Linked DNA regions of Homo sapiens. The protein of the gene in region 2 binds, or shares a complex with, the protein of the main gene of each other region. Each region holds a gene or a part of one and is shown on either strand. Other genes may lie near its edges.

The links.
Region 1: CACNA1C (region 2) and CACNG1 share a complex: the UniProt entries of both Homo sapiens proteins name them as parts of the calcium channel complex.
Region 3: CACNA1C (region 2) and STAC3 share a complex: the UniProt entries of both Homo sapiens proteins name them as parts of the calcium channel complex.
Region 4: CACNA1C (region 2) and CACNB3 share a complex: the UniProt entries of both Homo sapiens proteins name them as parts of the calcium channel complex.

The regions. Positions count from the first base shown.
Region 1 is NC_000017.11:67,040,152-67,048,164, forward strand, and holds the start of CACNG1 (voltage-dependent calcium channel gamma-1 subunit), read left to right. Parts: upstream 1-4,402; 5' UTR 4,403-4,509; coding exon 4,510-4,738; intron 4,739-8,013. UniProt on the Homo sapiens protein: Regulatory subunit of the voltage-gated calcium channel that gives rise to L-type calcium currents in skeletal muscle. Regulates channel inactivation kinetics.
Region 2 is NC_000012.12:2,580,418-2,588,503, forward strand, and holds part of CACNA1C (voltage-dependent L-type calcium channel subunit alpha-1C), read left to right. Parts: intron 1-1,172; coding exon 1,173-1,380; intron 1,381-2,404; coding exon 2,405-2,525; intron 2,526-4,085; coding exon 4,086-4,200; intron 4,201-4,958; coding exon 4,959-5,079; intron 5,080-5,417; coding exon 5,418-5,487; intron 5,488-8,086. UniProt on the Homo sapiens protein: Pore-forming, alpha-1C subunit of the voltage-gated calcium channel that gives rise to L-type calcium currents. Mediates influx of calcium ions into the cytoplasm, and thereby triggers calcium release from the sarcoplasm.
Region 3 is NC_000012.12:57,241,872-57,248,187, reverse strand, and holds the end of STAC3 (SH3 and cysteine-rich domain-containing protein 3), read left to right. Parts: coding exon 1-62; intron 63-1,286; coding exon 1,287-1,384; intron 1,385-2,976; coding exon 2,977-3,043; intron 3,044-3,222; coding exon 3,223-3,272; intron 3,273-3,565; coding exon 3,566-3,651; intron 3,652-3,821; coding exon 3,822-3,873; intron 3,874-3,962; coding exon 3,963-4,100; intron 4,101-4,277; coding exon 4,278-4,376; 3' UTR 4,377-4,730; downstream 4,731-6,316. UniProt on the Homo sapiens protein: Required for normal excitation-contraction coupling in skeletal muscle and for normal muscle contraction in response to membrane depolarization. Required for normal Ca(2+) release from the sarcplasmic reticulum, which ultimately leads to muscle contraction.
Region 4 is NC_000012.12:48,820,872-48,828,957, forward strand, and holds the end of CACNB3 (voltage-dependent L-type calcium channel subunit beta-3), read left to right. Parts: intron 1-2,472; coding exon 2,473-2,595; intron 2,596-2,809; coding exon 2,810-2,932; intron 2,933-3,386; coding exon 3,387-3,502; intron 3,503-3,797; coding exon 3,798-3,862; intron 3,863-4,077; coding exon 4,078-4,097; intron 4,098-4,291; coding exon 4,292-4,372; intron 4,373-4,562; coding exon 4,563-4,621; intron 4,622-4,788; coding exon 4,789-4,898; intron 4,899-5,373; coding exon of another isoform or gene 5,374-5,447; exon of another isoform or gene 5,448-5,495; coding exon 5,496-5,647; intron 5,648-5,887; coding exon 5,888-5,983; intron 5,984-6,102; coding exon 6,103-6,252; intron 6,253-6,713; coding exon 6,714-7,028; 3' UTR 7,029-8,070; downstream 8,071-8,086. UniProt on the Homo sapiens protein: Regulatory subunit of the voltage-gated calcium channel that gives rise to L-type calcium currents. Increases CACNA1B peak calcium current and shifts the voltage dependencies of channel activation and inactivation.

The DNA.
Region 1 (8,013 bases), on a different chromosome or scaffold from region 2:
GGCCAGGCATGGTGGCTCACACCTGTAATTGCAGCACTTTGGGAGGCCGAGGCGGATGGATCACTTGAGGTCAGGAATTTGAGACCAGCCTGGCCAACATGGTGACACCCTGTCTCTACTAAAAATACAGAAATTAGCTGGGCATGATAGCACATGCCTATAATTCCAGCTACTTGAGAAGCTGAGGCAGGAGAATTGCTTGAACCCTGGAGGCGGAGATTGCAGTGAGCTGCGATCACACCACTGCACTCCAGCCTGGGTGACAGAGGGAGACTGCATCTCAAAAAAAGAAACATAAAAGTCTTTAAATCACGGGCTGCCTGCTCTCCTCCTGCAGGGGTGTACAGGGCGCACTTTGAGAACCCCAGCTGCGGGCTCAAGTCTCCCGAGGGGCCCATGTCCTGCCTGGAGCTCCTATTCTCCACACCTCTCCACGTAGGCTGAGTTCTGTCCCAGGAGACCCCACAGCCCCTCCCAGTATGATCTCAGCTGCCCTAACAGTTTGTGGACTCCTCAAGGGGAGGGAGTGGGTCTTCTGCTTGGCAGGACAGAAATCCCAGCGTGGGCCTTATTGTGCCCCAACTTAACTATGGCCCAAGCCCTGGCTGGCCTGTATGTTCTGGAGTCCTCAGGAGGGTCCTGGATCAATGGGGAGGGAAATGGCCACCGTGGCAGGGCAGCCAGAAAAAGCTGCCAGAAGTGGAGGCTAGCAGAGGGGGGTTGCGAAACAAAGGGAGTTGGACTGGTGCAGATAGGATAAAAACATCTCAGGGGTACAAGTAAGCATCAACATCTGGAGAACAGAACAGGAAAGAGCCCCCCAAATTTCCCACAACACTGTGAGTACCAGGCATCCAGGGCGATTGATTTCTTACCATTACGTCCTTCGCTGAATCAAGTACTCAGTACTCTATTAAATGCATGACGGCCACTCTCTGGTCTCCTCTTATGAGAACACTGCTACAGTTGGGCTCTGTGTCCCCATCCAAATCTCACCTTGAATTGTAATAATTCTGTGTCATGGGAAGGACCCAGTAGGAGGTAATTGAATCATGAGGGTGAGTCTTTCCTCTGCTATTCTCACGATAGTGAATAAATCTCACAAGATCTGATGGTTTTATAAAGGGCAGTTCCCTGCACGTGCTCTCTTGCCTAACGCCATGTAAGACGTGCCTTTGCTCCTTCTTCACCTTCCGCCATGATTGTGAGGCCTCCCCAGCCATGTGGAACTGTGAGTCCATTCAACCTCTTTCCTTTATAAATTACCAGTCTTGGGCATGTCTTTATTAGCAGTGTGAGAACAGACTAATACAGACACTGCTCCCATCACAAGGGCCCCACTTCCATGAGCTCATTTCATTATCTCCCAAAGATCCCACCTCTACACACCATCACACTGGGGGTTAGGCTTCAACATATGAACTTGGGGGAAACATGATTCAGCCCATAGCGCCTACTATGGCTAAGCTGGTCCAACGCACTCCCTCCAGCCCTTCCACCTGCTCCGCAGCCAGGCCCGTTGCCTTCATTTTACAAGAGGCAGCTTAGAAAGGCTAATGACTTACTGGAACGTGCACAGCTGGAGCCAAGCAGTGCAGGGATTTGCTCGGGGCTGGCCAGCTCCATCACCCTCTAGCTTGGTCCCCCTCTCGCATGCTGCCTCCCTGAGATGCTCCTCTCCCTGTTGCCCTGGAAAGGGTGAGATCTTGGGGGAGGACATGGATGTTGCCCTGCCCAACTTTCAGCAAATGCCTGTGGCTACTGAAGTCCCTTCCTGGCCCTTCCAGGCCCCTGGGGAACCAGGCAGGCAGCGCGGCAGCACCTCTGTGAGCAGAAAAGGTGTATTTGAGGGAGCTTTCAGTAAACAGGGAAGAGAAAGTGGACCTGCCCGCAGTAGCTGCAGCTGCGGGTCTCCTGGTGCGACTTACACAAAGATGACTTCAAAAGGCAGAGGCCATCAATCTTTAATGCTTTCACTGCACTGGGGCGGAGGACTCTGGACCCCTGCATGGGGCACAAACCTGCCCCCCATGGAGGGAAAGAGCAGCAGAAGTTCCTGGTTGCTGTCCTCACCAAGGCCTGGCATCTTTGAAGGGCCTGCAATGTCATCATGGCTGGCGCTGGGTGCACCCTCTGGGCTGGGCCCTTTCAGGGTGCTTTCCAAGGCCGTCAGAGGCTCTTGGCACCGAAGAGCTTAGGGCATCCACCCCCACCACACCAGGAAATTCAAAAGACACTTTCATTTTTCCAATGACACTGTATTTACTTGTAATGCTAAAATTAAATAGCTTCTTTCTAGATTTTCTGTCTTAAAACACTGGAACCCTCTTCTGGCTCCCCAGCTACTGCTTTGCTGGGTGCCTGGCACTCAGTAGGTCTAATCAAGCTGTACAGCACCTCCTGAGATCCCCAGGTGCCAGGATCCTGAAGCTGGGCCCCCACAAACAACAAGAGAGGGCTCAGAGGCTGCAGCCATGTCCCAGCTTCTGGGAATTCCCCATGGAGATGGTCTACCCACCTGGTGACAGGCAGTTTCTCCACGAGCTGAAGCAGGGGCGGTGGCATATGTCAACAGTCAGTCAGTGATCAGTCAGTTGTGATGGATTAGCACCCACAGGGAACACAGAGGTGGGGGGACAGGGAGGAAGGGAAGCAGAGATGAGAACAGTGGGGAGATAAGCTCTCAGGAGATTGTAATATGTATGAGAGACTGATTTTAAAAATATGGAAGTTTGGATGGAACTGCAATAAGCACAAGCCAGTGGCTGGAGATGCGAGGGTTCAGCTCAGCCCTGGGGCTGTTCACCAGGTAGTCCTGGCTCCTCACATCTCCTCTCTGGGCTGCAGATTCCTAATCTGTCACAATAGATCATGAAGTTTCTTCCCAGTTCCAACCATTCGTTATGACTTTGGGCTCTGGGTCCTGAAACCTGGATTCCTCATTTTCTCGCTGTGTGACCTTGGACAAGTGACTTCATGTCTCTGAGCTTCCATGTCCTTGTCTGTGAAATGGCAGTAACCGTTGTAGTCCCCTTGTGGATTGGTGTGAAGAGTAACTGTGACAATGGATGAAGGCTTAGCAGGGTACCTGGTAGATAGTAAGCACTCACTGAAGATGAGCCACTGTTCTGATTATCATCATCATGAACTTTCTGTGATTCTAAGGCTGGAGGCCGAAACATTTCTGTCCACATGGGCAGAGTCTCTGTAAATCGTGTCAATCTGAGGCCAGGATTTTGAAGCTCAAGGCCCCACCCAGCTCAGGAGGCTATTCCTGGTCATGCGTCAGCCTCTCGGCTACACCCAAAAAGGGCCACCCTGTGAGCCGAGAAGGAAGAGATGACACAACCCAGGAGAGATGTAGAGGCTGGAGCCTCGGAGACCAGCCTGGGGGCCAGGCGGGTGCACAGGACCGTCGGAGGGTGGTCGATCCCGGGCTTTCTGTGTTCTCTGCACGCCCATGAGCTCCTAATGATCCCCTATAAATCAACCTATTCATTCTTTTTTACTCACACACTTATTTTTCAAATTCAAACATAACTGGAAAGTCGTTATCACCTGCTGTTAATAGAAGGCAAAACCAAACAGTGCCCTGAAAAACAGAATGACCAAGTCCAGCAGGATTCCTCGTCCTCTTCGGGCCGTTCTCGCTTTGTTTCAAAGGACACTTTACAGGCAATAATGACACTGACCTCGAACAGAGCTTTGCTCTGGACCCAGTTTTGGGGATGGAAAGAGAATTGAAAAGGAAGTAATGTTCTCGTGGAGGGATCAGAGTTGGGTAAGGCCAGACCTGGGAACCACCTAAAACCTTCCTATGGTTTGGGGGATGCCGTGGGGTTTGTGGCTAAAACGCTTGCCTAAGAGGTGGACTCCACAGGCCCTGGACTGGGTTCCCGGGATGTCATTAGACAGAATCCTAGCCCCTCAGATCCCAGGATGAGAACCTACTCACTGCCCTGCCGGTAACAGGCTTACCCCGTGGGAGCCCGGGACAGCCGTGCAGCCCGCAGCTCCTGGTCTCCTCCCCTGGCCTGGGCTGCCCTTTCCCATCAGCCCAGAGCAGGCAGATCCCCACCCCCGGGGCCCTGCTGCCCACCTCTCGCCCTCTCCCAACTCAGGCACCCTGAGCTGCTACTCACAGAGGCCTCAATCTACCATCCAGAGCCTTCTCTCCTTGCCACCCTGCCCCGCCGCACTGGGGTATTTCTGGCTCCCAGAGGGGCAGAAAACCCTGAAACCCGAGCAGAAGCTGTCCTCGGTGCCACGCCTGGAGATGGGCATTAATAGCAGCCTCCCTCAGGCCCCTGACGCGTCTGGGCAGCTGCTCAGCACGTCCCGCGTCCCTCGGCCCCAAGGCCAGCCCACTCTGGCTCAGCCAGGCACACTAAACTTAGTGGCCACTCCCAGCTCGACAACCACTGCCACCCCCCAAGCTCGGCTTGTCACCTGCCCTAGGAGACGCAGCCGCCGGACCCTGCCCAGGGCACCCACGCCTCGGCGACCACCATGTCCCAGACCAAAATGCTGAAGGTCCGCGTGACCCTCTTCTGCATCCTGGCAGGCATCGTGCTGGCCATGACAGCCGTGGTAACCGACCACTGGGCTGTGCTGAGCCCCCACATGGAGCACCACAACACTACCTGCGAGGCGGCCCACTTCGGCCTCTGGCGGATTTGTACCAAGCGCATCCCCATGGACGACAGCAAGACCTGCGGGCCCATCACCCTGCCCGGGGGTAACGTACCCACCCTCCGTCCCGATCCCCACCTCCTGCTCTTCCCCGTCATCCCCCTGGCAAAGTTGCCCTTGCGAAGGAAGGCAGGTTTCTCTGCCTAGAAATAGGGCAGCCGCCCAGCCTTTTCTGCCCAGGGAAGAAGATATGAATTGCATGTGTGGTGCTGGTGGCTGGGGCTGGGTTGTAAGACGAGGGCGTTTGTCCCAGCTATTTCTGTCTGGCTGGACCTTGGGGCTTTTTGCCCAGAGCAGAGAGCTGGGCAGGCTCAAGAAAGGAACTGCAGCTCTACCAGCCCAGGGACTTCTGGGCCCCACCTGCTCACTCTCTCCCTGCAAAGAAAAGCTAGGTGGCTCTGTGTCCTCAGGCTAGGGGGACCCATGGGGCTGGCAGGTTTGTTCCTGGCCTCAAGGCAGGAGAGGAGAGAGCATAGGCGATGGAATTTGCAGGGTCCTGTGCAGAATGAAAATGCAGGGTTCCTTGCTCCAAATTACCAAGGATTTCAAGGCAGTGACAGCAGCACATGAAACCACACATGGGCCCTTGTGGGCTCTGGGCCTGGAGCAGCTGCACAGGTTGAATGTCTGTGAAGCAGGACATGGCTGTAGGCTGTAGGTGAGCCACCTGCCCCCACCTTCTTTTTTTTTTTTTTTTTTTTTTTGAGACAACTTTGTCGCTCAGGCTGGAGTGCAGTGGCATGATCTTGGCTCCCTGCAACTTCTGCCTCCTGGACTCAAGCGATTCTCCTGCCTCAGCTTCCCCAGTAGCTGGGATTACAGGCATGCACCACCACACCCATCTAATTTTTGTACTTTCAGTAGAGACGGGGTTTCACCATGTTGGTCAGGCTGGTCTCGAACTCCTGACCTCAGGTGATCCACCTGCCTTGGCCTCCCAGAGTGCTGGGATTACAGACGTGAGCCACCATGCCCGACCTCCACCTGTCCTTTTGTCAGGACTTCAGTCCTCTATGCATCCTGTCTTAGCTCAGACCCTGTCAGAGTTACAAAGCATTTCCTCACCCTGTAATTTAAGCGTATTCCTCGATTTCCTACCGTGTGACCGAACCACACGTTGAAGGTAAGGTCCTTTTCAGGAGTACCTGGTAGTCGCGTGACTAGCCTCTATTCTGCAAATGCAGAGGCTTCTGGATTCTTAGCAAATACAGCACTTTAGAGGAAAGAGTGCTCATGGAGACCAGGCAGCCAGGGATCTAATCGCCATTGCCCACTACCCTCAAATGACCATCCAGGGAGGACAAAGCTCATCTCAGCCTCTGCTTCTTCCTCTATAAAATATGGGACTGACTCTCAGCAACGTGAGATCCCTTCCTCGGCTTACAGACGCCCATCCACAGTGGCAGTGGAGCAGAGTGATGTCAGTGTGATGTCCCACCTGGTTTTCAGGATTATTTCCTCTTTTATCAGACTAGGTGTTCCTTGAAACCTGTCCTTCAAGGACACTAGGGCTAAGTCCCCAAAGATCTTGCAGTCTGCTTGTGAGGCAAAGAGCACAGACCCCATCCTCCCTTGTCTCTGCTCCCTCTTCCTTCCCTCCTGCTTGCTCCAGAGATCCCCTCCCTTGTTCAGCCCCACTGGAGGCCCAGAAGACTCATAAGTGCCCAGCTGTTGTAGAAACACCAAGTCCCAGGGCTGAGAGTGACAGGTGTGGCCATGTGCTTGCAGGGTATCGCATAGCCCGGATGCCCATGCCCCTTGGCCACTGCTGAGCACACCCATAAACAGGAACAGCCTCCAGCCAACTCCCCTGGGCAGGGCAGGGCAGGGCAGGGCAGGGCAAGGCAGCTTCTTCAGGGACCACACATGGGGACGTGCTGTTACAGTCCTGTTCACCCGTCCTTGGAACCATCTGCCTTTTAAAGTCAGAGCAGAAGACTGGGCAGTGAGCAGAATCCACACAAGGAAGAGACAGGCTGGTGAGAGGTGACTGGACCAATTGCAGGGGGCCAACAGGCATTGCTTGGCCTTGAGCCTGACAGGATCTACCTCTTTGCCTTCTTAGCCTAACCAGCTATGAACCACACCTCCCACACTTGTGACACTGAGCACTACCTTTCCCCCAGTAATCTTCCAAAATATGTTCCTGCCTTTTTCCCTCTCTTTTCTCTGCAAATGGACATCTTTCTCCTTCCCCATCTGCCCTTCTTGTGCTCCCTGGGACCACTCTTCTCTGGAGGGAGGAAGTGGGTTCATATGTGGCCCGTCATCTATTATTAACAACAATAATAATAATGGCACATACATGTAGCCCTGTGTGCCAAATATTGTTGTAAACGCTTTACATATATTAACTTTGAAAGACATCAGGAAAAAAAATGATAGAAAAAGAACCTCCAAAAATAATCTTCTCCATAATAGTAATGAGAAGGCTGGCAGAAATGGTCAGAATCAACATTTTCAGAACTCTGGAAATTAACCAAAGTCTTGCAGCAATCCAGCAAGAAAAATGGGTGAATCTCAGGAGGACCAGTGAGTTCTGTGGTGTTTTAACTTGCCTTATTCCTGTTTCCCTTTCCCAGCTCTGTGGTAACCTTGCAAACCAACATTCCGTAATCACAGTGAAAATCAGCATCCCAGTAGCCTCTGGAGGGGAGAGAATGGGGTTGGATCAAAGGCCCATTCCCAGAGAGTTGTCATTATTTGACCTGTCTGGTGATTCCCTGAAAACCCCCACTTGAGAAGCTGTTTCTGTTTGACCTGACTCTGAGCTCATCCAGTGCAAATAGTCTTTCTCCCTGGGGATGTTTGTTGAAAATAATTAGAGATGATTGATTAACATCATGGCTGTCTGAGGCAGTAGATAACAGTTAGGGAAAACAACAGGCTAACCAAAAAACTGGAGACTGAAATGTCCATAAGTTGCTTTGAAAAGCTCCAACATATTCCTGGGAATCTAGGAGGCCACATGCATGCACAATGCTATATGCATGCTCAGGAAAGACCTGAGAAGGCCCTAAGCACTCTCTGCCTTATCTTGAGACTCTGTTCAAGCAGGAAGTGAAGGCTAAGGCAGAGATGTGGGTGGCTTAGCTGAGCATGAAAGTCATATGCACAGAGCCCCTCAGTAAAGACTGGGAGAGGCATTGTTGCCAAGCGTTTTAGGAAATTTATAATTGGTCACTAAGCTAATTGAACAGGGATCTCAGTGATCACACATGACAAAAAACACATACTTTACCATCTTAGTTCAAAAAAGTCACTAAACAAACAACGGGAACAAATCTTCAAGAAGGGGGAACAACTGATTTCCAGAGTTGC
Region 2 (8,086 bases):
AGCAGCAAAAGCAATCCACTGTCTGGATTGGTGATGAGCTGGGAATCTCTCAAGGGAGTGACCTAGGAGGCAGGTGGGCCAGAGGGGGCCAGAGGGAAATGAGATTGTTCTGTTCTTGCTCTTGCTCCCTCAGGGCCATGTCCTTTTGCCATGGTGCACTTCCTGGTCCTGAGCTGACCCTCACACAGGTGCCCACCCTGCATCCAGCAGTCATTAGTAGGTTCCCCCTCCCACTTTGTCATGAGAAAGGGATTTTCCCAGGATCGCTGTATTTATAGTGGAGAGAGGCCCCAGGACTGTAAGGAGTGGGGACCTCCTCCCCAGGAATCCCACTGAAAGCCCATGTCCCCTCAGGACCGAGCTCCTGCCCACTCAGAGGACTCGTGCTTTGAGCTGCCCCAGTGGGTGTGACAGGTTTGCTATAATCTAGGATTTCCCAGACTCACCTGCTGATCAGAATCCTGTAGGATGCTTGTTAGAAACAAAGATATCTGGGCCCCAAACTACAGCTAATGAATCACAATCTCAAGAGGAAAGGCCCTTAAAGAAACAATTCTTAGGACAGCGTAAACTTGGGAAACCACCAAGCCATGAACTCTCTCTTACCCGTGGGTGACCTAATTCCTGCCTCTGCTAGAAGGCTGCTGCCTATAGGCTGAGCTCAGACTGGCATTCATGGTGGGGGAAAAAAAGCTTTCTTTCTGTTTAGAGACCAACAGTGACAACAATGATTACCAACCTTTATCAACTATGTGCCAGGCACTCTACAGGGGGCTCTTTGGGGAAAGGTGGATCATGTCACGCAATCCTGCCATAGCCTAATGAAGCAAGGGCTACAACAATCTCCATTTTTTTGATGGGGATGCAGAAGGCAGGGAAGTGAAATGTCTTGCCCAGAGGCACATGCAGCAGGTAGCCGGCAGAGCTAGGTCGCGGGCTTCTGACCACTGTCCCCCTCTCTTCCCCAACAGATTAATCATCTTGAGACCTTGAATTAACTCCCTCCAGGGTGGCAACTCACACCACCACCAACACGCATCCCCCACGGGCAGGGAAAAAGAGCATAGAGTGGCAGCTCCTCTGAGAACCTGCAGTGGGCAGTTGTGAGAATGAGGCACGATGGGGAGGACAGCAAGGGGCAGAGTGCTGACCTCCCTCCTGTTGGCTCTCAGGTACTGGAACTCCTTGAGCAACCTGGTGGCATCCTTGCTGAACTCTGTGCGCTCCATCGCCTCCCTGCTCCTTCTCCTCTTCCTCTTCATCATCATCTTCTCCCTCCTGGGGATGCAGCTCTTTGGAGGAAAGTTCAACTTTGATGAGATGCAGACCCGGAGGAGCACATTCGATAACTTCCCCCAGTCCCTCCTCACTGTGTTTCAGGTATGGACTCTTCTCTGCTGGGATTCGGACTCGGGGTGGTTGAGTGGCGGGGTGGTGGGAGGAGTGTGGGAAGCTGCACCCTTTTACCGGGCAGCCACAGCCATCCTAGATCAGCCCTGGAGAGCCCATGCCCGGGAGAGTCTTGAGTTTTTTCTGTAGTTTCCCTGTCCCCATCTGCCATGGAATTCCACTAGTGGGTGGACCATTAGGGGAAACAATATAAGTGGTTTAAAAATGCCTTCTCAGGAGAATCTCTTGAACCCAGGAGGCAGAGGTTGCAGTGAGCCAAGATTGCACCACTGCACACTCTAGCCTAGGTGACGGAGCAAGACTCCGTCTCAAATAAAAAAAAAAAAAATCGTTCTTATCCATGGAATCCTTTACTTAAATTCTCCATGAAAGCCCAAAACATAAAGAAAAGCAGACTGCTCTTACTGGGGGAGGGGAGGGTGACGAAACCCTGGCTTTCCTACCATGCTTGTCTCTTGAAAAAAATATTACTAGCCCATCAAATTTGTGATTTCATAGATATTTTGGCTTAGGGCAAACTCAAAGTGGCATCTATTTAAGTTTAAAAGCAGATCGATTGAGAGGTAAAAATGAATCACATGTAGATGTTGTCAAAGTCTTGAAGATGATGCCCCAGTGACGAATGTTTGGGGAAAGCTGGTGTAGCCTGTGGCTGTCTCAGCAAACACACAACTGCAAAAGGGTCCTGACGCCTTACCCCCAGGAATGGCTGACGGTCAGCTCAAGCATGTGTGGGGAAAGTCAGAGATCTTTGGGCCAAAAAGCCCTTTTAGTCACCCTTCAAATAATATTATGCCAATAGCCAGGCATTTTGTCTAAGGACAGTTCAATAGCTCAGAGCCCCTGGGGAGGAGAATTGGGGGCCAGGAGGAGGGAAAGAAGTGAAAGGGAAATTTTGGACAATTTTGTTGACGTAGTGGGGCAGGGCAGGGTGGTTTTGGGTTTGCTGTTGGTCTAACGCTGTGTCCCTTATTGGTGGGAATGTGTCATTCAGATCCTGACCGGGGAGGACTGGAATTCGGTGATGTATGATGGGATCATGGCTTATGGCGGCCCCTCTTTTCCAGGGATGTTAGTCTGTATTTACTTCATCATCCTCTTCATCTGTGGAAACTGTATCCTTTGCTGCTGCCCCCCACCCCTGCGGCCCCCAGCCCCCAGCCTGCAGCACAGTGCCAAACGGGCACGCCCCTCAGGTCCGGGCGGTCCTGCTCGGGCTCACACCACCCAGCCTAGAACCCCATGGCGGCGGAGGTGGGTCTGGGTGGAAACCTGCAGCTTTGGCATGGGTGAGGTTCACCTTCCTGAACCCTCCGGGCCCGCAGCGGCGCCGCGCTCCGGGCGGGCTGTCGCCGTAATCTGGGTGAGCGGCGCCCCCTGGCGTTGCGGCGTGTGCGGCCACTCACACCGCCTGCGATAGGGACGCGCGGGAGCGGGCCGGCTGCCCTGGGGCCGCGGCGTCTGCTCAGAGGCGGGACGCTCCGGGAGGGAGGATGAGCCGTTGTCCTTCAAGTGACCTTCAGCTCTCCTCCTGCTTTTTGGTCAGCAGCCCTCTCTCTGATGCTGCTCTCCAGGACTTTAGTCACGGGCAGAGCTGCACAGACTTCAAACAGCCCCAAAAGCTCCTTCCTGATCCCGGCTGGGGCAGGTTTCCAGGGCACAAGCCACGGGTGCTGCTTCTCTTCCCCAGCTCATAACCCCGAGAGAGTCACGTCCAGAGCCAGGGGTAACATAGGAACAGCTCTGGGCCAAGTCCCAGCTAAGGCAGTGCAGAAAACACAGTCATGGAAGCCTGCAGACAAGGTTTCCTCTTTTCCCAGCTGGATGACCTCTTGCAGATTGAAGGTCCTCTACCTCAGTGTCTGTAAAATGTGGCAATGGAATCATAGAACCTACTACATAAAGGGTCGTTGGGAGTTTTCATGGGATCATGCATGCAAGGCCTCTGCCACATTCAGAAGCCACCCTGGACAAAGCCCCTCTTCCCCAGCCTGGGTTGCTGCGGCTTCCCTGTGTGTGAAATGATATGAATGTCTGGGTGCCTGGGGCCGGGGGTCAGACTTCACAGACTTAAAGCCCCCTTCCAGCTATGCTTTCGTTGATTCTGCAGTTCTCTGACCCACAGTGTTTCTGTTGGTGGAGTGGGGAGGAGAAAGGGCAAAGAACTGTCTCCACTGGGAACTCCCAAGCCTTGGCTGGCTCCAGATGGACCCTCCAAGGGTCTTCGTGGGTGCAGGCTCACATTAAGAGTTGGCAGAGATACCAAGCCACCCCCTCAGCGCCCAGTTATAATAAACCGCTCTTAAGAGCGTTCTGCATCCTGCTAGAGACAATGCTGTTTATAATGTCAATTACAGCCAGTCATCTCAGCAGGGAAAGCAATCATGAAACCCAGCAATTAAAGTGCAAGGCAGGGCTTGCTGCCTCCCTCCCGCCTGCTCCAGTGTGCAGGCTAGCCTGTTCTCATCCCTCTTGATAGCTCCAGGTAGCTAGGAGGGTGATGGGGAGGAAGGGGAGGGGAGGAACACTGTTGGGGTCTGACTCCCTCAAATTGCTTCCCCCTCAAGCTCTCTCTGCTGAGGAGCTCTACCCTGCACGCCCCACATCCCCCGTGCCCCTGTGCCCACCAAAACCCCAAACCAAGGGTCATTTTCTTTAAGAATGGACACAAACAGATATCCTACTGAATGTGTTCTTGGCCATTGCTGTGGACAACCTGGCTGATGCTGAGAGCCTCACATCTGCCCAAAAGGAGGAGGAAGAGGAGAAGGAGAGAAAGAAGCTGGCCAGGTAACCCTCTAAGCTTGCCCAGGCCTGGGGCTCCAGGGCTCCCATTGTGGAATGTCTTCCCACTGGTGGCAGAGAGAGGCTTGACTGCTAGCCTCTGTTGGCTCTCCCTCCTAGGAGGACTCTGGGTTTGGGGCTTCCTAAGTTGGGCCTCTCTCCTAATTCCTAAGCATCACTCTGGTAGGGACCATCATGAATTATAATAATCTCTGCAATGGTGTCATATTCTCCACCTGCTGGGATTATCTTTTGAGAAGCTGTGATAGGTGGCAGGAGTGTAGGGTGGGGAGAGAGAAAGGTAACCACTCAGTTGGGAAACGCAGCTCCAGCTTACAGAGGGAGTCCTCCTCACTACTTTATAATTCATCTCCAGTGTTAGGAAGGCAAGACGGGGCCCTATGTTGTATCCTATCATTATCTAGACGGGACAGTTCCAGGCCACACAGCTGCCGGGCACTGAGCAGAGCTCCTCCAGGAGCCAATCCTAGATGAGATCCACCATCCTTTTCTGCTTTGGCGACCCAGGCATCTCTGGAGCTGCAAGAGGCCAATTGCGTGTCAGGCAGAGCAGGTGTAGCTCAGCCCCATAGCACTTGTGACTGAGCTGCACACGAGAAGCGTCCTGGAGAAAGGAAGATGGACTCAGACCCAGGGGATCTGTCCCCTCTGGCCCCAACAGGCCACAGGGCGGTTCCCTCCTACACTGTTCCCTATCACTCCAGTAAACAGCCATTTATTTTTTTCTGCTGCTGACTGGCCAGGACTGCCAGCCCAGAGAAGAAACAAGAGTTGGTGGAGAAGCCGGCAGTGGGGGAATCCAAGGAGGAGAAGATTGAGCTGAAATCCATCACGGCTGACGGAGAGTCTCCACCCGCCACCAAGGTGAGGAGCTGTCTCCTTCCTGGAGCTGTGAGGCCGGTGCTGGGGAGGGAGGGCCACAGCCTTCCCAGGCCAGAACCCTGTGGAGAAGAGGAGAGAAAGAAAGACACCCAGTGGAAAGAAAGCCAGTGGGGATGAACAGGAGAGCTGGGAGGGGGAAGATAAGGCAGATTGGCTGGATCCCAGCCATCTGCTGATGTCTTGAAGGAGATATGCAAAGTGACAAGTACCTATTTTTGAGCTAAGTCACTGACTAAAATGCAACTTCAAGGCTACTGCAAGCCTCTTAACTTGGGGACGTATCTAACTATTCTTCCCCCTTCTCCCCTGTGACTGTCTAGATCAACATGGATGACCTCCAGCCCAATGAAAATGAGGATAAGAGCCCCTACCCCAACCCAGAAACTACAGGTACCAGTCCCACTGCCTAACCTGGGATTGGGAGATTGGGGGCAGAGATCTAAATTCTAAAGCCACGTGGGAGTGGCCATATATTAGGGACCATGGTTCCAGTGTCCCTCTGTAAGTACCTTCCACTGCTGAGTGTCTTCTATCTCTATATTTAAGCATCATCAGTCAGCATCTGGGAGGCAGGTTTGTTTCTGGTTTCCTCATAATGAGATCACATTTGAGCAGTGCTTTTGTGTCCTTTCCAAGTTGGATTCAGTGTACATTTAAATTTTTGTTACATTACATGTTGTAAAATCATCATTAATTTATATAATGTATTAGTATGGCATATGTTGCAACATTATGCTCACTTAATATTAATAGTCAATCCCAAGTCTGCCTTGCCCCTACTCAGGAGGCAGTGCCGAGTGCAGGGACAGCTGCCACCACAGATGTCCCACTTGTTGCTTTAGGCAATGATTTCAGGTCTCATTATAAAAGGCGCGCTTACTGACTCCATCTTTTTATGCTTCTATCTGATACCTAAATTGGCAGGCAGTCTGCTTCTCAAGAGCTTTAATGTCAGAGATCAGAGGTCCTCCCTCCAGGCTTCACTTCCCTGCTCCCTGAAATCCCATACCCTGTGCAAGGCCTGGGCTTGCCTTCCTCTGACCTAGGATTGCAGATATTATCGCCAGTTTCAAGCTTGAAGTCAATAACATGCTATCAAGGGACTGTTGATTTTACTGACATTTCCTTGTTCCTGTAGGTTAGGCTATATTTGGGTTGTTCACCAAGTTAGGTGGCTGAGAACCTCCTACATTTATGAGCAAAGCTCGGTTTCCCTTTTTGCTTTCCCTCCGCTGGTTCTCTGCTTAGAACACTCACAGGCATCCTTGGGAACCAGACTCCCTGTGGTCACACCATCCTCACTCCCCTCCTCCTGCAAGGGAATAGGATGTGGTTTCCTGGAGCTTGGATAGAAAGAACAGGAAGGGCGTTTTCATATGCCCGGCATTAAGGCTTTGAAGTTCTTAAAACCCCTTCTAGGGTGAAACCGTTAGGGAATTTCAACGACGTACTAGAATTATTGAACAAATGCAATGGGAGGATCTTGCCTTGATCCTGAAGCAACAAATACACTTTAAAATGACGTTTTAGAGGGAAATGGGGGAAATTGAATATGGACTGGGAACTAAATGATTGAAAGTAGTTTTGTTAATCTTGTTGGTATAATATTTTGTAGTTCTGTTTTTAAACTGCTGCAGTGTTTATGGCCAGAGTCTAAATGTTTACGAGTTGCTTTGCTTTTAAAATATTCCAACAAAAAAAAAATGGGGACAGAGAAGATAAATGGAACAAGATTAGCAAAATGTCCAAAGTTGTTGAAGCTGGTTATATATATGAGGTTTAGTATGTGAGACTGTACTCTTGTGTAAATCTTTAAGGTTTAAAATGAAAGACAGTAATAAAACAAATTCCTTAGAGCCCTGAGAAGAGCCCTCCCATGGGGCCAGCCTCCAGGATGGGCCTCCCTGCACACACAACAGGGCAGATCTAGCATGAGGGTCTTTTCACACAGGCACCCAGCTGCAGCCAGGCCTGTACGGCAGATACACCTCTTGCATCTTCAACAAAAATCTCAAATTCTATTAATCTATACTCTTGGCTTTTCTTTTCTTTGTTGCTCTAATGAAATCAAAGAGAAGAATGTTAATTTTAAAAAAAAAGGGCTAATGAGGATTTTGTCACCAGGTCGGCCATCCTAGAAATGCCTCTCACGTAGCTACCCAGTGGCTCTGAGGACTGGGGGATGCTTACGCTTTCCAGCTGAAAAGCTCTTCCCACCCTCTGCTGAGGCCTCAGGATTCTTGAGATTTTTGAGTGTACGGCCCGCTCCCCGTCATTTCTGTTGGTTACATGTGTCTCTTTACTTTCGTGTTGAGACCTCTGGTCCATACCCTGAGGCTGCCCTGACTGCCCCACCACGTACACCAGCCACCACTCCGGCCTCTGAAGCCAGCCCCAAGCATGCCCATTTGTGCACTATCCCTGGTTTCCAGGTCCTCATCCAGGAGGTCCAAAGGGCAGCATGCTCTTAAAGCTGGTGGCCCCACACATCACTCTGCCCCCAAAGGCTAAGTTAGCTTGTGCTTCCCAGCTCTTCCTGCCTTCCCATTTCCTCCCTTCCCTGCCTCCACAGTCAGCTCCTGGATCCTTTAGTGCCAGGTGCAGCAGAAGTTCCCAGAGACTCCTCCGAAGATCACGTGGCCTGTTGTCTCTGTTCTGGTCAATCTCTGGTTCCTTCCTGCTTCTTGTTCTCCCGAACCACGAATGGCAAAGATCCTGATCTACCATTGTGCTCCCAACCGCTGCCCCTTCCAGGCCGCTGGCCCCTGCCATGCCTGGTTCATGCAGGTACCCCTTAGCAGGCAGCACTGGTGAGTGTCCCTCCTGCTCTGCCTTCAGCCAGACCACTAGGGAGAAAGGGCCGGTGTCAGGGAGCACACTGCCATGCTCTCCTGCTCCCTCCCTGTCTCTCTCTTGCCCTGTCTCCTAGGCTTGCCCCCTGCCCTCTCCCTCTCTCCTGGGCTGTCCAGATTGCACCCAAAGTGATGTA
Region 3 (6,316 bases), about 55 Mb from region 2:
CCATCGGGCCTATAGTTCCCCACTCTACAGCAACCAGCAGTACGCTTGTGTCAAAGATCTCTGTAAGTGCCCTTTATGGAACATGAGGGAATGGGCAAGCCTAGAGATGGTTTCATGCCATCTCTAGCTTTGGGAGCCAAATTCTGAAACAGAAACTTTCTGTTTCCCATAATTCTCCCTCAACCTCACATTTTTATATCCATTTGGATGCAGAGGCAATATCCCCATTTTACAGCAGAGGGAGATACGATTTAGTTGCAACTACATACAGTTAGCAAGAGGTAGAGCCAAGACTGGAATCTTCAGTTGCTAGCTTCAGAATCTGTGCTCTTTGTGTGCAAAATCATTTCTAAGCAAGAACAAGGATTCTAGATTGTCCTCATCCTTACTACAGAGTCATATCAGACTCGGGGCAAGACCCAAAGGCTGCAGGCACCCTGGGCAGGTTCATAATTTGGCAACCCAGGCCGGGCGCGGTGGCTCACGTTTGTAATCCCAGCACTTTGGGAGGCCGAGGCGGGTGGATCACGAGGTCAGGAGATCGAGACCACGGTGAAACCCCGTCTCTACTAAAAACACACAAAAATTAGCCGGGCGTGGTGGCAGGCGCCTGTAGTCCCAGCTACTCGGAGAGGCTGAGGCAGGAGAATGGCATGAACCCGGGAGGCGGAGCTTGCAGTGAGCCGAGATTGTGCCACTGTACTCCAGCCTGGGTGACAGAGCGAGACTCCGTCTCAAAAAAAAAAAAAAAAAAAAAAATAATAATAATAATAATAATAATAATTTGGCAACCCTTAAAAACATATTCATTGACAAATTTGCTCAACATTTATTTGGAGGAGAGGCTGAACTCTGTGAAGAGCATGGGTGAAAAAGAAGAACCTATTGGTGGCAGCACCTCAGCTTACACATGCCATTTAGCAGAACAAAAGCCAGCAGTTAAGGGCCCATTCTCCTTAGAAGGAGAATAGTGATTCTGCGCATGTCTCAGCTCCCAAGCAAGCAAAGTTGTGTTTCAAACATCATATAATGCTCTGCCTGGAAGGAGTTCTAATAAATACTTTCCTCCCTCACTTTACATCACCAGTGATGTTTTTAAAGTCCTTTATAGATTGGTGTCCTGGGTATTGCCTAGCTGACCCTTCCCTAATCTTCCCCGCGGCGCCCCCACCGCCACCCAACACACACATGGGTATCCATCTACTCAATCCCACCTCTCCCTTCCTTTCCTCCAAGCCTTTCTCTGCCTTCCCAATAATGTCTTCTTTCTCCTCCCATTCGATTAGCTGCTGCCAATCGCAATGATCCTGTGTTTGAAACCCTGCGCACTGGGGTGATCATGGCAAACAAGGAACGGAAGAAGGGACAGGCAGATAAGAAAAATGTGAGCACTGTACCTCCCCACGAGGTCCCTCCCAGAGATCCCATGGAGCAGGTCATTTTCCCATTTGGAAAGCTGACAGAAGTAATGGATTGTCTTCCCCTAAAATTGCACAAAACTCGGCCAGGCATGGTGGCTCACGCCTGTAATCCCAGCACTTTGGGAGGCCGAGGTGGGCAGATTACCTGAGGTCAGGAGTTCGAAACCTGCCTGGCCAACGTGGTGAAACCCTGTCTCTACTAAAAATACAAAAATAAAAATAAAAAATCCGGGTGTGGTGGTGCTCGCTTGTAATCCCAGCTACTTGGGAGGCTGAGGCAGGAGAATCGCTTGAACCCGGGAGGCAGAGGTTGCAGTAAGCCACTGCACTCCAGCCTGGGGGAGAAAGTGAGACCCTGTCAAGAAAAAAAAAAAAGGAAGGAAGGAAGGAAAGGAAGGAAGGAAGGGAAAAGAAAAGATAAATGTACATATCTGATCAAAAAAATCAACTGCAAAAAACAACTAGAAATCTGGCCTCAAACTTGTTGATATGGAGGTTGGACACAGATAAGGGATTTCTATGGAGTGAATTAATGACTTGTAAGGCACTAGCAATGTGATATGGCTGCTTCCAGAAGGGCTAACATACTCTTGGGTTATATTCTTTTAAGGGAATTATAAAAATTGTGCTGCTCTTTTTTTTTTTTTTTTTTTTTTTGAGATAGAGTTTCGCTCTTGTTGCCCAGGCTGGAGTGCAATGGCACGATCTCGGCTCACCGCAAACTCTGCCTCCCGGGTCCAAGCGATTATCCTGCCTCAGCCTCCCGAGTAGCTGGGATTACAGGCATGTGCCACCATGCCTGGCTAATTTTGTATTTTTAGTAGAGAGGAGATTTCTCCATGTTGGTCAGGCTGGTCTCGAACTCCCGACCTCAGGTGATCCGCCCACCTCGGCCTCCCAAAGTGCTGGGATTACAAGCATAAGCCACCGCGCCTGACCATGCTGCTCACTTTTTACTTACACACTGGAGTATTTTTAAAGGCTGACAGCATAGTCAAGGACCTGGAATCTGGTAGTGAATTCCCTGTTATTTAGCTACATTCAAGCAGAATGTGGGTGACCCACCTGATAGGATGTTTTAGGGAAAGTCCCTGCATGGCCGGGCACAGTGGGTCACGCCTGTAATCCCAGCACTTTGGGAGGCCGAGGCTGGTGGATCACGAGGTCAGGAGATTGAGATCATCCTGGCTAACACGGTGAAACCCCGTCTCTACTAAAAATACAAAAAATTAGCCGGGCGTGGTGGCAGGCGCCTGTAGTCCCAGCTACTCAGGAGGCTGTGGCAGGAGAATGGCGTGAACCTGGAGGCGGAGCTGGCACTGAGCCAAGATTGCGCCACTGCACTCCAGCCTGGGTGACGGAGGGAGACCCGTCTCAAAAAAAAAAAAAAAGTTCCTGCATTAGGCAGATGGCTGAACTAGATATTTCCTCCAAGGCCTCTTCCAACTCTGAGATCTCTGAGATCCCATTATTCTATAGTTCTCTGACCTGATTATAGACAGCCAGGGCATGTGTTCCCAAGACAGCGTCTCCCTAACTCTGGTGCCCCCTCCAGCCTGTAGCAGCCATGATGGAGGAGGAGCCAGAGTCGGCCAGACCAGAGGAAGGCAAACCCCAGGATGGTGAGTGTTACCCACCTCCATCCAGAGATGGAGTAGGATCAGAGGCTCAGCTGTGGAACAGAGGGTGGAGGAGCAAAGGGCAGGCCAGCTTTGGATAGACGAGGCCCTTCCACAAAAGGGTAAGAGAATAAGAATTGCCCTCCAGGAGACAGACAATTTGTTGGTGTTTCCTATCCCAGGAAACCCTGAAGGGGATAAGAAGGCTGAGAAGAAGACACCTGATGACAAGGTAAGAATCCTTCCTCCCTGCAAGGAACCCAGTTCTCTCCCCAACCCAGCTCTGACACCACTACTCATGGCCCTGGCAGAAGCTCACTCTTTAACTCCTAGGCTTCCCATCACTTCTGACCCACACTCTCCATCAACTTGCACACCCACCCACGACCAAAACACTTCTCTCAGTTCAGGGACCTAGAAGAGAGTTGGAGTGTAGAGTGTGTGGTGAATGTCCCTGCCTTGGAATCCTGCCCCTCAGTGTGGGGTAGAGGAGCCCTAAGACTCATCATTCCCTTGCACCCCCAGCACAAGCAGCCTGGCTTCCAGCAGTCTCATTACTTTGTGGCTCTCTATCGGTTCAAAGCCCTGGAGAAGGACGATCTGGATTTCCCGTGAGAGGCCTTGGGGCAGGGGGCTGGTACTGCGGAGTGAAGAGGAAAGAGCTGGGTTCCCCCAAGGGAAAGGAAAAGGGGGGACTCAGGGCTTGGAGCCTATTGATGCTGGACCCGGGGCACAGCAGGGGACCTGCTATGTGAGTGAGGCCCCTCCCTTCCCCTCCCAGGCCAGGAGAGAAGATCACAGTCATTGATGACTCCAATGAAGAATGGTGGCGGGTGAGAGAAATGGCTAGGGCTAGGGTGGAGTGTGGGTTGAGTCCAGAACCCGACATTGAGAGATGGACTCTCCCTACTATCTTCCCTAGGGGAAAATCGGGGAGAAGGTCGGATTTTTCCCTCCAAACTTCATCATTCGGGTCCGGGCTGGAGAACGTGTGCACCGCGTGACGAGATCCTTCGTGGGGAACCGCGAGATAGGGCAGATCACTCTCAAGAAGGACCAGGTAGGCTGTTGCCCCAACCCAATCCCAGGCCTGAATGCTCCCTAGCCCACCACACTCCTTGGAGAGCTTAACCATTAATAAGACTAGGGTGAGCCCCTGTAAACCCCGGCTCCCCTGCTGTCCTCTCCTACCTTTTCCTTTGATTCCTCTCCTACTTCTGATCCTTTAATCTTCTAGATCGTGGTGCAGAAAGGAGACGAAGCGGGCGGCTACGTCAAGGTCTACACCGGCCGCAAGGTGGGGCTGTTTCCCACCGACTTTCTAGAGGAAATTTAGGCGTGCGGGCGCCTGCAAGCGGGAGACACCCACACCCCATTCTGGGCGGGCCCAGTGGAGTTTGGGGAGGGGGGCGAAAGCAACGGGACTGCTGGGAGAGGAGGGGTAGGAAGGCCCGCCTGAGCGCGACGGGGCTTCCGGGAAGGGACTGGTTCTCGCCCCCTTCCCCAGCCTGGGGCCTCGGATACCTGCTGCCCAGAGCAGCCCGGACCCGAAACCTTTCAGGCCCCGCTTGCAAGAGCTGGAAAAAAACGCGTATCTACTAGGAGGAGCCAGGGACTGGGGCGGGGGGCGGGGGCGAGGGAGGGCGAACTGTCGAATGTTGCGAATTTATTAAACTTTTGACAAAACTTAGAAAAGTTGTTATTTAACTGGGGTTGAGGAGAGGGCCTGCGGAGGGGTGGAGAATCCTCCCTAGCTGTCCCGCCTCGTTACCATCGGGTAACCTGAGACCCATCTGGGCTGAGGTTGGCGGGAGGTGGGAAGTGCGCCCGCCAGGTGAGGCCTCTGTAGTCAGTAAAGAAAGGGGAGCGCAGGGCTGGAGTCGCCGCCCCCGCGCCCCAGCGGTTGGGAGCAGGATCTTGTAGTAGGGTAAGTCCCCCCTTGCTCTTGGCGATTTAGCCGCAGGCAGCCCCTTGCATTTCGGAATCTGGCTTGGCGCCGAGCTAGGCCGCCAGGGGGCGATGCAAGATCTCGGTTGGAGAGCGAGGGATGGGGAGGGGGTGGAGGGTGGGTAAGGGGAGACAACCAGAGACACCAAGCCCGAGACCCTGGGCCTGGGAGGGGGTGGGGTGCGTGCCGTCTCCATGGCAACACTTCCTCAAGTCCTCCGAGAACCGAGCTAGCTAGGCCGGGGGCCTAACCCCACCCGCGCGGCCCCTGCCCTAACCCTTTCCGACAGGTACCGAGTGAGAACGGAGGGCAGACAGCTAACCGGCTCTCGCGGAGACACCCCTGCGGAGCACCGTATGCAAATGTTATTATTTGCATATGCAAATATGCAAATACGCCGGCCCTGGTCAGGGCGGCAGGTGGCGAGGAGCAGGAAGGTGTGGGGAAGGGAGCAGAAGGAGACGAGGAGTTTGGGGACCTGAGAGCGGACCCAGTGAGAGGCAGGCTGGGGTGGTCGCTGGAGTGGGGCAGGCGTGTGTGGGGGGGGTCTTGAGCTCGATGCCGGGTGGGGGAGGGTCGGCTTGGCCAGCCAGGAGCTCCTCTTCTCGTCTGCCCGTTGTCTGCCAGGACCGAGGTTGGCACCGCCTAGCAAGGTTGGCAGCGGGAGCCCGGGCACCATCTGCTGCTGGCGGGGGGAGGGCAGAGGCTCAGCTGGGCTGGGGAAGAGGAGGCCTGGGACGGGCGCGCCCCCCTTCCAGAAGGCTGAGGTGTGATGGGGGTAGGGAAGCACACAAGAAGACTCTGCAGAACCGGGTTCAGTTTTCTGTTCCCTTTGCCCTTGACGGTCCCGGATGCCTGAGGGGGTGGGGGCGGAGTCATTAAAGAAGACCCCCCCCTTTAATCGCGATTGAGCTGGAATAGGAACAGATCACAGGCAAACACACACACCAACCACACGCAAATCAAGCATTCTGTCCTTATCCTTCCTTGAAATCCACCTACCAGGAATGTATGAGGGGAGGGACCGCGAGGGCTCGGGTCGTCTCTATTCATCAAGGTCTGAGGGACTCAAAATCAGAGCCCCCCGAGATCCTCGAGAGACCCCCGCCAATGCTAAGGCAAAACCAATTTACTGGCTCATTGGGCGGCAATGCTGGTGTGCGGATGCCGAGAAGCAGGGAGAGCGGCTGTTCTCCCCCAACACTCGGGGGGCGCCCCCCTCCCTAGCCTCACTGAGCCGGCAGCTGTCCCTAATTAGAGCGGCGGTTTAATTGGATTTATCAGCAGTTAATAGGAAATTAAGCAAAGGGCCCGAGAGAAGGGGGGCG
Region 4 (8,086 bases), about 46 Mb from region 2:
GCCAGATGCCTCAGGCGTTATGATTACTAAATTAGGCCGCCAGCGGTGCCTCACACCTGTAATCCCAGCACTTTGGGTGGCCGAGGTAGATCACTTGAGGTCAGGAGTTGGAGACCAGCCTGGCCAATATGGTGAAACCCTGTGTCTACTAAAAATATAAAAATTAGCCCAGCATGGTGGCACATGCCTGTAGTCCCAACTACTCAGGAGGCTGGGGCAGTAGAATTGCTTGAACCCGGGAGGCAGAGGTTGCAGTGAGCCGACATCGCACCATTACATTCCAGCCTGGGCATCACAGTGAAACTCCATCTCAAAAAAAAAAAAAAAATTACTAAATTAAACCAGGCATAGAGACTCATGCCTATAATCCCAATGCTTTGGGAGGCTAAGGTAGGAAGATGGCTTAAGCCCAGGAGTTTGAGACCAGCCTAGGCAACATAGCAAGATCCTGTCTCTACAAAAAACTAGTAGGCATGGTAGCGCATGCCTGTAGTCGTAGCTACTCAGGAGACAGGAGGATCGCTTGAGCCCAGGAGTTCAAGCCTGCAGTGAGCTACGATTGTGCCACTACACTCCAGCCTGGGTGACAGAGCAAGACCTGTCTCTAAGTAAATAAATAAAATAATAAAAATAAAGATTACTAAATTGGGCTGAGAGCCTGGAGCACAGGCAGAAAAGGTCAGACTCCTCTTTTAGCACAGTTCTGGGCCTCTGGGAGGTACCCAATGTATCTGTACCAAAGCGAGTGGTCATCTGCCTTGCCTCCTGCCTCCCAGTCTGTTGGCCCCTGTCTGGTTGCTTCAGACACCAACATCCCACAGAGGTTTCTCTTGTGTCCTAAGACCCCTGGGAAGGAGGTCCCTCACCCTGTGCAAAGATTATTTCTGGGGTTCATCCCCCACTTATCCTGCTGCCATCCAGCCTCATTTTGTTCTCAGGAGAGATGAGGAACAGTCGGCGGACTACTCTTCTGTAAAATGAAAGATCTTTCCCCCTTGTGCTATCTTCAGGCCTTTGGTCTACTATAGACACTGTCTTTAGCCTAAGGCTCGAGAGCCTGGGCTGACCCCTAGCTGAACAGCCCTCTTGCCCACGGCAGGGTAGGGGTAGAGGGCATGGTTGACAGCAGGTATGTGATTTTGCCTTCTTCTCTGAGAGTCTGGCCTCTGCTGCCTTCCGTAGGTGGTCATGCCCAGTGAGCTTGAGAGAATGTTCCTCTACCTGAGGACATTCTAAAGCCCCTTCCCCTATACACACACACACTCCTGCATGAACCCCTTATCTAGGCTTATCCCTTCTCTCTGCCACTGGCATCTCAGAATTGTGGGAAGTATCACTTGAGGCTTCTCCCCACAGAGAGGGAAAACTGAGGCAGGAAACGAAAGACTCCCTTTCCCTGACAGAGGAGGAAACCCAGACATTGTAACCTCTGGGCTCTTGTCTCAAAGTCCAGCGTCCCTTACTCATTTGTGCCTCTCCCTCATGGTCTTGAGGCTGAACTCTGTGACCGTCAAATGCACCCTCATTGCCCAAGACCTTTCCTATGGGCAGGACTCAGAGACTCTCCTTGCTCATGTTACCCCCTCCCCACATCCCCGGGGTCCTGCTCCGTAGCTAGGTTGCCTGGCACTAGCATAGCCTTCTTCTAGGGCTGATGTCCCCTGGGCCTGGGAAAGGACTAGGGAGATGTAGGCCAAGTGGTAGGTGTGGCCCAGCCTCACCTGCACCCAGGGAGACAGCTTTGTGTTCTTGGTCTGTGTCTTGTTTGCTGCCCACACCTGGCTAGTTGCCCCAGCAGGTGTGGAAGGAAGAAAAGTAGGGGGTGGGGAGAGCAAAGGGGAGGTAACTTCTAGGAGCTGGCAGCTTTGTGTCCTCCTCTTCACCCTGGAAGGGTAAGGGCTCACCATTTGGGAGCCTTCAGAGCCTTGTTGGAGTAGGGAAAGTGGAATCTTAGGGGGCAGATGGCTGGATCCCCACATTCAGGACTGGTGCTGTGCCAACCAGCATCTCTTGACTGTTGCGGCTGGCTGGACTCCTGACAGGCATCTTAAAGGGATGATGTCCAGGCTGCTTTGCAGGCTGCTATGAACAAGAGGGCTGGGTCTCCTGGATCCAGAATCATCTCTAATACATCATCTTCAGCACACCTCCCTTCCCTCGGCTCAGAGGACATGTTAGAGGGGAGAAAAGGGAGGAAAGAGAGAAGTGAAGGCTCTATTCAAAGCTGCAGTATTAATAGGCTTGGGGGAGGAGGGGCCCAGATCTTTGCACCTATGGATTGGGCCAGCTTTCCTGTAGCCTCAGAGGCACTGGGGCCCTTCTCAGGGGATAGGAGGGGCCATAGGGACCCAGCTATCCCCTTGGAGATGGAGAAACTGGGGGCAATAGAGGCAACACTGTAAGGTGAGGAGGGTGCCTCCATGGCATCCTTCATGCCGGAGCCTGGGAGTCACAGCCTCTTTCCCAACCCAGGGTTCAGCCGACTCCTACACCAGCCGCCCATCTCTGGACTCAGACGTCTCCCTGGAGGAGGACCGGGAGAGTGCCCGGCGTGAAGTAGAGAGCCAGGCTCAGCAGCAGCTCGAAAGGGCCAAGGTATACTTTCTGGGCATGGGGCAAGACAGGAGGCCAAGCTAGGTGGAAACCTGCACTCGGTCCTAAGTCCCAAGGGGTCCTTGGGCAGGATGTCCTTGAGTGTGAGAGGGTGTGTGTGATGGGCAGAGGCCACGGCCTTCTGCTGTTGGGGCACTGAAGCTGGAAGGGGTGCTTCGAGCCTTCTCTCACTTGCACTAATGGGCAAATTCTCCAGCACAAACCTGTGGCATTTGCGGTGAGGACCAATGTCAGCTACTGTGGCGTACTGGATGAGGAGTGCCCAGTCCAGGGCTCTGGAGTCAACTTTGAGGCCAAAGATTTTCTGCACATTAAAGAGGTGATCGACCCCCCTACTTCCAGAAGCCTCTAACTTCATTTTCTTGCTCTTGCTCCAGATCCTAATGCTTCTGACTTGAATCCTCAGTCTAATTCCCCAAGCTAATCAGCTCTTCTCCTTAACACACACCTGTCCACCCCTCATATCTAAGATCTCATCCCCAGGGTCTCCATCCTTCTGAGACCTGGCTTGGGCATCAGTCTCCATGTCTGTCAAGTGAGCAGTTAGATTAGCTGCCTCCGAGGTCCCCTGTGACAGCTGCAATGCCTCACTCAGAAATCCTGGGTGGCCCGAACTTGGCTGTCCTTTCCCCTGGCCCCTTCTGCCCACCGCCCCTTGCATTGCATTCCTCAGACCAGCTCAGTGACTGCCTCGCTGGCTCCTTCACATTGAAGAGCCAGGACTGGGGCGGGGCGCTTCTCTCACCACCCCTTCCTGCTCCACCTGCCCCCAGAAGTACAGCAATGACTGGTGGATCGGGCGGCTAGTGAAAGAGGGCGGGGACATCGCCTTCATCCCCAGCCCCCAGCGCCTGGAGAGCATCCGGCTCAAACAGGAGCAGAAGGCCAGGTGAGAGTTGGGCCATGAGTCAGTAAACACACCCCAAACACTTGCACTGTACCCACAGGACACGTCACCATGCATGCCATACACATGCATATCCCCCTGAAATACACATACACGTATGCCCAGCTCTACACACTCAACACTAAACAAATCTACAAACACACACACATATTGCATGTACACCTGTCTCACTAGATAAAGCATATGGAATTGTGTACAATTATTAAATAATGCATAGAACATACATACACAGAGACACATTCTTCTCTCTCTCTCTTTCACCTCCCTTTCTTCTCAGGAGATCTGGGAACCCTTCCAGCCTGAGTGACATTGGCAACCGACGCTCCCCTCCGCCATCTCTAGGTAGCCTCCCCCCAACCCACCCATTTTGGGTAGGTGGGTAGCTAAGACACAGGGAAAGAGGGGATCCTGCCCAAGTGAACTGTGTGGGAAGGGTTTGTGGAGGGATTGGAAGGGGTGGGGAGAAGCCAGTATCTCCCCTGGGGACGGGGATACCATGCCCCCAGGGACCTTTCCCCCTTCACCAACTTTAATCTTGTATTTCCTTTTCCAAAAAGCCAAGCAGAAGCAAAAGCAGGTGAGTCAAGGAAGGGACCTGGGCTGGGGGGATCATGGCTTATGGCTCTGGGGACAGTGTTCTAGGCAGTCATTGTTGGAGGGCAGAACAGAGAGGGGAGGGAGCCCAGAACCTCTGGATCTGCCCTGACGCCAACCAGGCATGAGACAGGCACCAGGGCCATGGTTTCTACTGACCTCATGTCCATTCTGCAGGCGGAACATGTTCCCCCATATGACGTGGTGCCCTCCATGCGGCCTGTGGTGCTGGTGGGACCCTCTCTGAAAGGTTATGAGGTGAGAGGAGGTCCTTGACCCCAAAGAGTCACCTCTACCAAGCCTGCCACAGGAAGTCCCTAGGGAAAGTGGAAGGGGTGTGTCTCCTCCGTCCAGGGTGTGTATGTGGAGCGCATTGACTCTGGGGCCATGCATGGGGAGGCTGCTTCTCTCCAAAGGGGCCCTTCATCAGTGCCATGCCTTCCCCCAGGTCACAGACATGATGCAGAAGGCTCTCTTCGACTTCCTCAAACACAGATTTGATGGCAGGTAAGCTGCCCTGGCCTGAGGTGGCCTGAGAACCAAGGAGAAGCTCATGGCCTACTTCCAGATGCCTGTAGCTAGTCTTCTCTAAGGGAAGAGTTAGTGGGAGCTGAGTAAGGAGAGGCTGAGGCACAGGTTTAGAAGCAAGCTGTGATTCTCCACTCCCACCCCAGGATCTCCATCACCCGAGTCACAGCCGACCTCTCCCTGGCAAAGCGATCTGTGCTCAACAATCCGGGCAAGAGGACCATCATTGAGCGCTCCTCTGCCCGCTCCAGCATTGGTGAGAAGTCCCCACCACCTGCTTCTGTGCCCACTCAAGTGCCAGTGAGAACCTTCCTCCTCCCTTTTCTTTTTTTTGAGATGGAGTCTCGCTCTGTCACCTAGGCTGGAGTGCAGTGGTGAGATCTCGGCTCACTGCAACCTCCACCTCCTGGGTTCAAGCGATCTTCCCATCTCAGCCTCCTGAGTAGCCGGGACTACAGGCGCCCATCACCACGCCCAGCTAATTTTTGCATTTTTAGTAGACGTGGGGTTTCACCATGTTGGCCAGGCTGGTCTCGAACTCCTGACCTCAAGTGATCGGCCCACCTTGGCCTCTCAAAATGCTGGGATTACAGGCATGAGCCACCATGCCTGGCCCCTCTTCCCTTTTCTCTTCCTTACCTCCTTGTCTTTCTGCCCAACTCCTCTACCTGCCCCCAGGATTGGCAAGAACACACCCCTCCTCCTCAATTCCCATTCCTCTGCCTGTCCAGGCTTCGATGAATGCCCTTTTCCTCCAATTCCTTCCTGTCCACCATTCGGGAGCCCTCAAAGCCTGCTGGAGTGAGCAGTGGGCAGAGCTCCTGGTGAGCACTGCTGCTGCCTCCCTCCATAGCGGAAGTGCAGAGTGAGATCGAGCGCATATTTGAGCTGGCCAAATCCCTGCAGCTAGTAGTGTTGGACGCTGACACCATCAACCACCCAGCACAGCTGGCCAAGACCTCGCTGGCCCCCATCATCGTCTTTGTCAAAGTGTCCTCACCAAAGGTAAGTCAGCTGGGCTCATGGAGGAGGCCCACAGGGCTATCCTACTAGAATGTGGCATGATTCTACTTGGTCCCTGCCTGGGGCACCTGAGTTCCCTTTTCCTGCTGCCCTTAACACAACTCTGAGTCATCCTCACCTGCTACTGATGCCACAAGTGGAAGAAATGCCTAGCTCTGCCCGGGCTCAGCTCTGCCCAGAGTCCTGAGAGACTCCAGGCCTAGCTCTGCCCTCCCCGCTCAGGTACTCCAGCGTCTCATTCGCTCCCGGGGGAAGTCACAGATGAAGCACCTGACCGTACAGATGATGGCATATGATAAGCTGGTTCAGTGCCCACCGGTGAGTGCCTGGGTCAGCTGCTCCTGTGCCCACTCCCCCAGGGCTGCGGCAGTGATAGAGATGGGTGGGGGGCTGCTACTGAGGGGAAACCAACGTTGCGCCTTCCTCCCCCTCCCCAGGAGTCATTTGATGTGATTCTGGATGAGAACCAGCTGGAGGATGCCTGTGAGCACCTGGCTGAGTACCTGGAGGTTTACTGGCGGGCCACGCACCACCCAGCCCCTGGCCCCGGACTTCTGGGTCCTCCCAGTGCCATCCCCGGACTTCAGGTAACCATTTCCAGTGGGCAGAGATGCTCAAGCTAAGCCAGCCAAGGCACTGCCCCTCCCTGCCCAGAGGACTGTCCTTGGCCTCCAGTTCAGCATGCCAAAGGATTGTAGAACTCTCAGCTCTGCTGTACAGAGCTAGCACAGACGGGCAAAGGAACTTCCTGAGGAGAGAGGGAATCAATCAATGAGATGGATACGTCAGAGATTAGTTTCCTAGGGGTCAAGAGAAACACAATCTCCAAACCTTCTCCCAGGCTGCCTTGAAGGCAGAGCCTGAATTTTGCGGGAGTCGAAGCTCCAGTTTTCTCTCTCGGAAGAGGAAAAATGCTCCAGCATGCTTTTTCCTTGCACTATTTCCTTTACCGGGGAATTGAGAGTTGAGGGGGGAAGAATCTCGCACCTCACCAGAAGACAAGGTGAGGTCTGTACTGCCTCACTGAGAGCTGTTGTATGGCCCCCAGAACCAGCAGCTGCTGGGGGAGCGTGGCGAGGAGCACTCCCCCCTTGAGCGGGACAGCTTGATGCCCTCTGATGAGGCCAGCGAGAGCTCCCGCCAAGCCTGGACAGGATCTTCACAGCGTAGCTCCCGCCACCTGGAGGAGGACTATGCAGATGCCTACCAGGACCTGTACCAGCCTCACCGCCAACACACCTCGGGGCTGCCTAGTGCTAACGGGCATGACCCCCAAGACCGGCTTCTAGCCCAGGACTCAGAGCACAACCACAGTGACCGGAACTGGCAGCGCAACCGGCCTTGGCCCAAGGATAGCTACTGACAGCCTCCTGCTGCCCTACCCTGGCAGGCACAGGCGCAGCTGGCTGGGGGGCCCACTCCAGGCAGGGTGGCGTTAGACTGGCATCAGGCTGGCACTAGGCTCAGCCCCCAAAACCCCCTGCCCAGCCCCAGCTTCAGGGCTGCCTGTGGTCCCAAGGTTCTGGGAGAAACAGGGGACCCCCTCACCTCCTGGGCAGTGACCCCTACTAGGCTCCCATTCCAGGTACTAGCTGTGTGTTCTGCACCCCTGGCACCTTCCTCTCCTCCCACACAGGAAGCTGCCCCACTGGGCAGTGCCCTCAGGCCAGGATCCCCTTAGCAGGGTCCTTCCCACCAGACTCAGGGAAGGGATGCCCCATTAAAGTGACAAAAGGGTGGGGTGTGGGCACCATGGCATGAGGAAGAAACAAGGTCCCTGAGCAGGCACAAGTCCTGACAGTCAAGGGACTGCTTTGGCATCCAGGGCCTCCAGTCACCTCACTGCCATACATTAGAAATGAGACAATCAAAGCCCCCCCAGGGTGGCACACCCATCTGTTTGCTGGGGTGTGGCAGCCACATCCAAGACTGGAGCAGCAGGCTGGCCACGCTCGGGCCAGAGAGAGCTCACAGCTGAAGCTCTTGGAGGGAAGGGCTCTCCTCACCCTGCCAGGAAGCTTCTTAACATGTGACAGGACCAGGGACCAGGAGCATGGTGAAGCCAAGTGGCAGATGGGAGCCAACCTGGATGGGGGTTTGGGGAAGGAGGGCATGTGTAGCAGAGAACTTAGGGGGGCCTCCTTGCCTTTCTCATTCTTTTGCCCTGCATCCTGTCATTTCTGTTCTTGTCCCTCATACATCTTTGGAGAACCGGGCTCCAGACTTTGTTCCCTGACTCATAGCTGCCGCTTGTTAGGTTAGGGTTAGATGGGGAGAGACAGGGCACAGAGGACCTGTCTCCCCGGCTACTCTTGCCTTATGGCTCTAGTGTGTGACCTACAGAGCATGCTCCACAAGCCCCTGCCTCACCTCACTGTCATCACTAATAAACATCATGCACAGTCCCTCCGGCTTCTGTTC